Regions from separate parts of the Homo sapiens genome. Here region 2 is linked to region 1. Evidence: fine-mapped expression QTL. Tissue or cell type: whole blood. Region 1 holds a variant in brackets; the other region holds the start of a gene. All regions are shown on one strand. Distances are from middle to middle.

Region 1 (4,252 bases):
CTGGGGTCCCCGCTCGGTGCAGAAGTAGCGGAGCACGTTGGGGTGCCTGTCAGACTCCTGCAGCAGTTGAACTTCCCGCCGAACCAGGCCAAAGCACTCGCGGAGGAGCCGCTTGACAGCCACTGCCCGTCCCTCAAACTGTCCCCTGGAAAGTGGGTGATGGCGGGGGCAGGGGGGCATTCAGGGAAAGCAGATAAAGGGACAAACATGGTGGCTCACACCTGTAATCCTAGCACTTTGGGAGGCCAAGGCGGGCGGGTCACTTGAGGTCAGGAGTTCGAGACCAGCCTGGCCAACATGGTGAAACCCCCATCTCTACTAAAAAAAATATAAAAATTAGCCGGGCATGGTGATACACACCTGTAATCCCAGCTACTGGGAAGGCTGAGGCCCGGAATTGCTTGAACCTGGGAAGCGGAGGTTGCAGTGAGCTGAGATTGCACCACTGCCCTCCAGCCTGGGCAACAGAGCAAGACTCAAAAAAAAAAAAAAAAAAAAAAAAACAGATAAAGGAAAGAGCAGGACTGGCGAGTGAGGGATCAACCTGTACCCACCTCGGGGAGTCTTTGAAAGAATGTCTCTCCAGGGGACAGTGCCCACGAGGGCTGTGAGTGCCATGTCCCCAGCTTGGCTCCTGGCTGCCACTCACCGGAAAACGAAAGTCCCGCCTGCCCCGCGGCCCAGCACGTCCTTGGGATTGAAGGAAATCTTCCCCACTACGGTGAGTTGCTCAGCTGGGGGAGAGGAGGGTGGTGACTCAGGGAGCCTCTGCCCACCTTTGCCGGCCACTGGCCCAGTCCAGACTCACCTTGACATTTTCTGGGCCTCCACCCTCCCATGCTCAGCCTGGTGCAGTGGGTAAGAGCAAGGGCCCAAGTGCCAGACTGTCTGGATCCAATGCCTGGTGCTGCCACTGATTCTTTGTCTACTTAGGCAAATTCCTCACTTCTGTGCCCTCGGTATTCTCATCTGTAGAGTGGGGAGCTAAAGCTAAAGAGCCCACACAATATTATTGTGAGGATTAAATGGATATATGGAAAGAACGGGTGGAGGTGATGTTTGCTATATTATCCTCTTTTATTTCTCTCCCTCTTTCAGCATCTTCTGCACAGGTTTGTTTTGTTTTGCTTTGTTTTCCCTTTACATCCTCTGCCATTCTGCCCACCTCCACCAGTTGTAACTGAATCCTTTTAATTGACACTGAATCAGCTTCAACTTCAAGGTAAGGTGAGTTCTGGCAGTTGGAAGAGTGATGAGAGTGAGTATAGCCACAGAAAAAAGACTGGACCGGACAGAAGCAGTGGGCATTGGATGCTAACCTGCCCAGAGTTAGTTCCAGGGCAGCAGGGGTACCCCTAGAGGCCTCGGTTTCCCATTAGGATGGGTGGGGTCGGCTCAGGTGGGCAAAGATCTGTAGGTTGGGACAATTACTGCCCTTCCCTTTGGGCAGCCTGTGAGAGACGTCTCACTCTGACCCTGGCAAATCTGGGCAGGCTGTGTCCTGCTCAGCTCCAACGGGCACTATTCATATGGCAAAACATATATGGCACCCCTAGAGTTGTGCAGTGCGGTGGTCCTGAGAACACTCTACTTTATAAGAGTTTTTAGCTTCAGTTTTTACAATCAGCTCTGGGAAGAGTAAATGAAAATCAGCATT[A/C]GGGCTGGGCACCGTGGCTCACACCTGTAATCCCAGCACTTTGGGAGGCCGGGAAAGGTGGATCACTTGAGTTCAAGACCAGCCTGGGAACATGATGAAACCCCATCTTTACAAAAAAAACTAGCCAGGCATGGTGTTGTGTGCCTGTCATCCAGCTACTCAGTAGGCTGAGGTGGGAGGATTGGCTTGAGCCTGGGAAGCAGATGTTGCAGTGAGCTGAGATCACGCCACTACATTTCAGCCTGAGTGACACAGCAAGACCCTATCTCAATAATTAATAATAATAATAATAATAATAATAATAATAATAATAAAATCAGCATTAGGGATCAGTGAGAAAACACCAAGTTGCACCTTAGCATTCCTCTGGATTATTTGCTTAGAGTTCATACTCATCTGTCAGTAAGATGCAGGCAGTACCTTTGGTATACACTGGACTTTCTGGAGTAGATGGGCTCAGGCAGGGCCTTGCTGGAAGTACATCACCCACACATAGGAAAAACAGGCAGATCAGAGAGCAGGGACAGAGCTGCTTGAACAAACCCTGCTCATCTGACTGCAGGTGACAGTCACCCTTCTGGGCCCTCTTTGTGTCACTGGCTCTGCTGGACTCAGAGGCTCTTGTGTGTCTGCTCTCAGTACTCTCGGCATGGAGTAAACACTTGCTTAGAGTTTCCTGGATTAGATGTTCAGAAGCACCCTCGAAGAGACAGGCCAGACTTAAGGCCACAAAGGCCTTCAATGCAGATATATGAGCTGGGGAGGCTCAGTCTGCACACACAGATATTTGTTATCACTTTGCTTAGCCTTTTGCATAATTATAATGGAGAGGCAGCAAATGTGGGAGTTTTTGTCGTTGTTGTTGTTGTTTTAGAAACAGGGGCTCACTCTGTCACCCAGGCTAGAGTGCACTGGCGTGATCATAGCTCACTGTAACCTCGAACTCCTGGGCTCAAGCAATCCTCCTGCCTCAGCCCCCCAAGCAGCTGGATTACAGGCATGTGCCTCCATGCCTGGCTAATCTTTTTGTATTTTTAATTTTTGTAGAGATGGGGCTTCACTATGTTGCCCAGGCTGGGCTCAAGCAATCCTCCCACCTAAGCCTCCCAAGCTCAATTCTAAAGTAATCAAAAATCTCGTGTCAGGGAGAAAGGGCATACAGTCAGAATTACCTCTGGAAATCCTGCATACACATGATGGACTTTGCTGCTGCTTCTACACAGGTTGGGGAACACTTACAGTCAGTCACATTCTTTCACAGGTATTTGCCAGGTATTGTTCAAACAGGGGCACCATCCCACAGAAATTAGGGCACTTGCTGGAGCCAGCCACATGCATTTGGACCCCTGAGCTGCCACTTATTAGCTTTGTGAGCCGGGGGTAAGGATGGGAGTTGTCACTAGACCTTTCTGCCTTAGTTTCCTCTTCCATAAAAGGAGAATTCTATAATAACATTCACCTCACAGGAATGTTATCTCATGAGTTAATGCATTCAAAGGATTCAGAACACTGCCTGGTATAGCCTGGTATACAGTAAGCGCTATAGAAATGTTATCCCTGGTTCAGGCTGGATTGCATCCACTTGTTATTGAATACATGATGCAGCCAGAGGTCCTGAGGGAGGCCCAGCCAAGCACATGTAGATGAATTTGTGTAAGTTTTTGTTTTTGTTTTTTGTGGGTTTTTTGTTTTGTTTTGTTTTGAGGTGGAGTCTTGCTCTGTTGCCCAGGCTGGAGTGCAGTGGCGCAATCTTGGCTCATTGCAACCTCTGCCTCTTGGGTTTAAGCAATTCTTGTACCTCAGCCACCCCCCAGTAGCTGGAACTACAGGCACCCACCACCACACCAGACTCATTTTTGTATTTTTAGTAGAGATGTGGTTTCACCATGTTAGCCATGCTGGTCTCGAACCCCTGACCTCAAGTGATCCCCCTGCCTTGGCCTCCCAAAGTGCTGGGATTACAGGCATGAGCCACCGTGCCCAGCCAAATTTATTCAAGTTAAATGAAAGTTGGCTGTGACTCCACTGTAATTTTGTGAACCATAAAATAGTCCATGAGGACTTTGACAAGAATGATCCTGGGGAAAGATGGAGTCCTGGTTGTCCAGGTAAAGATGAGCCAGACTCAACTCGAGTCCGAAGGTCCAGGGAGATGGGCGTTTTGGGGTACAGTGGGGTGAGTATTACTTGGACCCACCCAGGGCCAGTAAAATGACAAAAACTACAACAGCTCAGGGCTCAGGAAATCCTGCTGCAGGGCCCTCTAAAAGAGCTGACCCCTGAGGAAGGGGAGCTGTTTTCCTCTGGGCTAAGGCACAATGACCACAGAGGCGGACATTGCGAACAGCACTGGAGTATCAAGCCAAGTGTGGCATAGACTTCCGCCTGAGAAGGTGACGGCAGGGTGGGGCCAAGGTATGAGGAAGTGGCTTGAGCAGTGACTAGAAGGTGCCAGCACAAGTTCACAAAGACAACCAAAACCATGAGCCAGCCCAGAGCCAATCAAGCAGAAGTAGCCTGGGCTGATTGGTAAAGGCATGCAAGAAGCCCCTGGAACATTCCAGATGCCAGAGGAACCTTGAAAGATTCACAGCT
Region 2 (4,125 bases), 56 kb before region 1:
CTCACACCTGTAATCCCAGCACTTTGGAAGGCCAAGGCGGGCAGATTACCTGAGGTCAGGAGTTCAAAACCAGCCTGGCCAACATGGAGAAACCCTGTCTCTACTAAAAATACAAAAATTAGCCCGGCGTGGTGTTGGGCGTCTGTAATCCCAACTACTCGGGAGGCTGAGGCAGGAGAATCGCTTGAACCTGAGAGGCGGAGGTTGCAGTGAGCCAAGATCGAGCCACTGCACTCCAGCCTGGGAGATAGAGCGGAGAGTCTGTCTCAAAAACAAACAAAACAAAACCTATGTGCAAAACATGCTACTAGACAAGTTGCCAACCGTAAGGAATTTTCTTTTTTTTTGAGAGACAGTCTCACTCTGTCGTCCAGCCTGGCGTGCAGTGGCGCGATCTCGGCAGCTCCCTGCAACCTCAGCGTCCCCTGGTTCAAGCGATTCTCGTGCATCAGCCTCTGAGGCCTGAGCCTCTGGGACTACAGGCTGGCGTCACCACACCCGGCTAATTTTTGTATTTTTAGTAGAGACGGGGTTTCACTACGTTGCCTAGGCTGGTCTCAAACTCTGAGCTCAAGCGATCTGCCCATCTCGGCCTCCCAAAGTGCGGGGATTACAGGCGTGAGCCAGGGAGACTGGCCTCCCACCAATCTTATCAATGTCTGGGGATTATCTTGTTTACTTATAAATGATCTTTCTCACCTCCACCAGAAGGTAAGCCAGGATAAGAATAACATCAGCACAAGCTGGAAACATCCTAAAAGTCTATCAGTAAAGTACAGTCTAAAGAAGCAAGGGCACTTCCAAGGCCAGGTGCAGTGGCGGGTTCGTGTAATCCCAGCTACTCGGGAGGCTGAGGCAGGAGAGTCGCTTGATCCCAGGAAGCGGAGGTTGCAGTGAGCCGAGATCGCGCCACTGCACCCCAGCATGGGTGGCAGAGTGAGACTCTGTCTCAAAAAAGAAGAAAAACAGAAAAGGAAGAAAAAAGAAACAAAACGAGGGCACTTCCAAACTACAACATACTGTCTAGAACTTAAAAAAGAAAGCAAGGTAGATAAACATGTCCTGACAGGAAAGCTAAACGGAACCTGCAGAACCATTCAGATCATACCATTTATGAACATTCCCTTCTCCAAAAAATATACATAGGATTCCTTTTTGGTGGTTAGGGATACGCCCCTCCTCCACCACCCACATTAACACACGAAAGGACCTGGAAGTACCAGACTTAAAAGATTTACTTGAGGCCGTCCGGGGGGAGAAGTAAAGATTGAGGGTGTGGGAGGGGGGAGGAGCAAGGGTGTCGATACAGCTTTATCTACAAACTGTTACACATTGTATTAATGCGCTGCTACTGTAATGAAATTTGTTCTTTAAACGCCACCACGTGAGCACCACGCTATTTCCACATTTTCATTTTCTGTGCCCCCTCAGCCCTAAGAGGAGGGGGTGGTCAGATGATACTGCTGCCCTCGGACTGCCGAGGACACAAAGCCAGGCCTAAAACCCTGGGAAAGCGGGGTCAGAGTCCTGCGTCCGCCCTTCCCGCACCCCCGGCACCTTTTCCTTCTCCTCACAGCTGAGGGGCTTCCCGGGAGGCTCGTCCATCGGGCAGGCGACAGAACGAAAAGAGCAGCCGTCGCCGACCCCAGGCCTGCCGACACCGGGACCCAGTTGGCCCTGGGCCGGGGAGGCGCCCCAGGAAGGAATGGGGAGCCCGGGATCGCACCCTCAGTGCGCGATCAGCTGACCCACGCGGGCCAAGCGCGCCCTAAACTCCGGCCAATTAAATCCACCATTCGGCCTGCGCACGCGCAGCCGTAGACGGCCGAGCAGTGGAGCGAGGCCGCCTAAAGGAGAGCCGCGCTGTCGATGAGTCCCAGTGGGCCACCTGGAGCGGAAGTGGAGGAGCGGCCGGAAGTAGCCGGAATCTCTGAAAGACTGACCGACTGACTCTGACAGGATCCGGGGCTGAGGGAAGGAGGCGGCGGCCATGGAGTTGGGCGAGCTGCTCTACAACAAGTCTGAGTACATCGAGACGGTGCGCGGGTCCAGATATGTATCCTCCTCTTTCCAACCCTGCGTCCCTTTGAGGCCTGGTCGGCGTTCCCAACCTGCCCCTACCCCACCAACCCCTGTCCCTTTGGCCATTAGTCCCGGATTATCTAGCGATGCCCCGTGTACCGTCTGGCTTTGCTGTTTACTCCGCGCTTGGCCAGTTGAGGCCTTTTGTATTTATTCCTGATTTTCTCATAGGGGTAAAGTGCCTTCGGGAGGATAGGACAAGTCCCATCCTGTTCATACGAATTACAGCTCGGACTTCGGGCCCTTTTACACTGCCTTTTGTATCTGTTAACTTGCGCTAAAAACGATTCGGTTCTTTTTTTTTGAGGAAGGGGGTTGGGGGGCGGAGACTCTGTCGCCCAGTCCTGAGGGCCGCGGCGCGATCTCTGCTCACTGCAACCTCCGCCTCCCGGGTTCAAGCGATTCTCCTGCCTCAGCGTCTCGAGTAGCTGGGATTACAGGCGCCCGCCACCACGCCCGGCTAATTTTTGTATTTTTTGGTAGAGACGGGGTTTCACCGTGTTGGCCAGGCAGGTCCCTAACTCTTGACCTCAGGTGATCGACCCGCCTCGGCCTCCCAAAGTGCTGGCATTACAGGCGTGAGCCACCGCACCCTGCCGATTTGGTTCTTTATGATCAGTACATGATATGTTTGTAAAATCTTGGAAACAGGGCAAGTGGTCAATTAACGTTACTATCGTTATTTTGGTTTTCTTTGCTTTCTCACAACTCTGATACTCATAGTCATTATCCTCGTTTTAAGGCCGTAAAGCCCACGCGTGGAAGTGGGATTTGAATCCGCGTCTGTCTGATGCCACCAAGCTATAGACATTCAAATTATGAGTTTATTCCTTGAGTCCCTAGTTTCCTTTGTGTTTTTATTTTTTGAGACAGGTTCTCACTCTGTTGCCCAGGCTGGAGTGCAGTGGCACAATCACAGCTCATTGCAGCCTCGGCCTTCCAGGCTCAAGCGATCCTCTAGCCTCAGCCTTCTGAGGAGCTGGGACTACAGACACGCGCCACCATGCCCGGCTAATTAAAAAATTTTTTTTTTGTTGAGAAGGGGTCTCACTATGTTGCCTAGGCTGGTCTTGAGCTCCTGTCCTCAAGGGATCCGTCTGCCTCAGCCTCTCAAAGTGCTGAGATTACAGGCATGAGCCACCATACTCAGCCATAGTTTCCTAATCCATCATTGCTTTTTTGATATCCTGGACTCACTCCATTGTGGACAGCACCCCACTTTATGTTTTTTTCTCTCAAATGGGAGCTTTCTTGATGGAAACCTGTAGTCCAGAAACCTATTAAGTTTGCTTTCCCCGGTTTTCCGTTGTTTTCTTTTAGGCATCTGGGAACAAAGTCAGTCGCCAGTCAGTGTTGTGTGGAAGCCAGAACATCGTTCTCAATGGCAAGGTAAGGGACAAAGCCAGCTCCAGGCTGCAAACCTTAGCTTGCGTTCTGCTAATTGTCACCACAGCAGGGCAGATAAAATGTTGCCATATCTCCTATTTATTGTTTACATTTTTAATTCTCTTGTTTTTAAATTTTTTATTTTGTAAATTGGATCTCCTTTTTGTTTTTTTTTTGTTTCGGTTTTTTTTGAGACAGTCTCACTCTGTCGCCCAGGCTGGAGTGCAGTGGCCCCATCTCAGGTCGCTGCAACCTCCGTCTCCCAGGTTCAACCAGTTCTCCTGCCTCAGCCTCCCGAGTAGCTGGGATTACAGGCAGCTGCCACCAAGCCCGGCTAATATTTTGTATTTTTAGTAGAGACAGGGTTTCATCATGTTGGCCAGGCTGGTCTTGAACTCCTGCCCTCAAGTGATCCACCCACCTCGGCCTCCCAAAGTGCTGGGATTATAGGTGTGAGCCACTGCACCCAGCCTAAGTTGGATCTCTTGAATGCAAAAAGGTTCAATAAGAGGCAACAGAAAACCTTTTTTCTTTTATGCCAGGAACAAAATACAGTGGTACCTAGAACCAACATTATTTTATGATATAGTGTGCATTAAACTACTGGGCACAAAGTGTAACAGGTAATGAAATATTTGAAGGTAGAAACTAAAGTAA

The links. PIP is the estimated chance that this variant, and not a neighbour inherited with it, causes the effect.
Region 2: it holds the start of DCTN5, and the variant in region 1 is the best candidate, but not a certain one, in a credible set for the expression of DCTN5 in whole blood (INTERVAL, PIP 0.87).

What each region holds. Positions count from the first base shown.
Region 1 is chr16:23,695,245-23,699,496 of GRCh38, forward strand. ERN2 (endoplasmic reticulum to nucleus signaling 2) reads right to left here. Exons shown (of 22, transcript NM_033266.4): 14 at 650-734; 15 at 1-145. Among named protein-coding and RNA genes, the nearest start is that of ERN2, 16 kb to the right of the region's middle. The variant A/C (reference allele first, on the strand shown) is at 1,658.
Region 2 is chr16:23,639,553-23,643,677 of GRCh38, forward strand. DCTN5 (dynactin subunit 5) reads left to right here and starts at 1,914. Exons shown (of 6, transcript NM_032486.4): 1 at 1,914-2,038; 2 at 3,403-3,471. The coding sequence starts at 1,991. PALB2 (partner and localizer of BRCA2) reads right to left here and starts at 1,758. Exons shown (of 13, transcript NM_024675.4): 1 at 1,558-1,758. The coding sequence starts at 1,605. RefSeq lists a silencer at 825-1,059 and an enhancer at 2,187-2,976.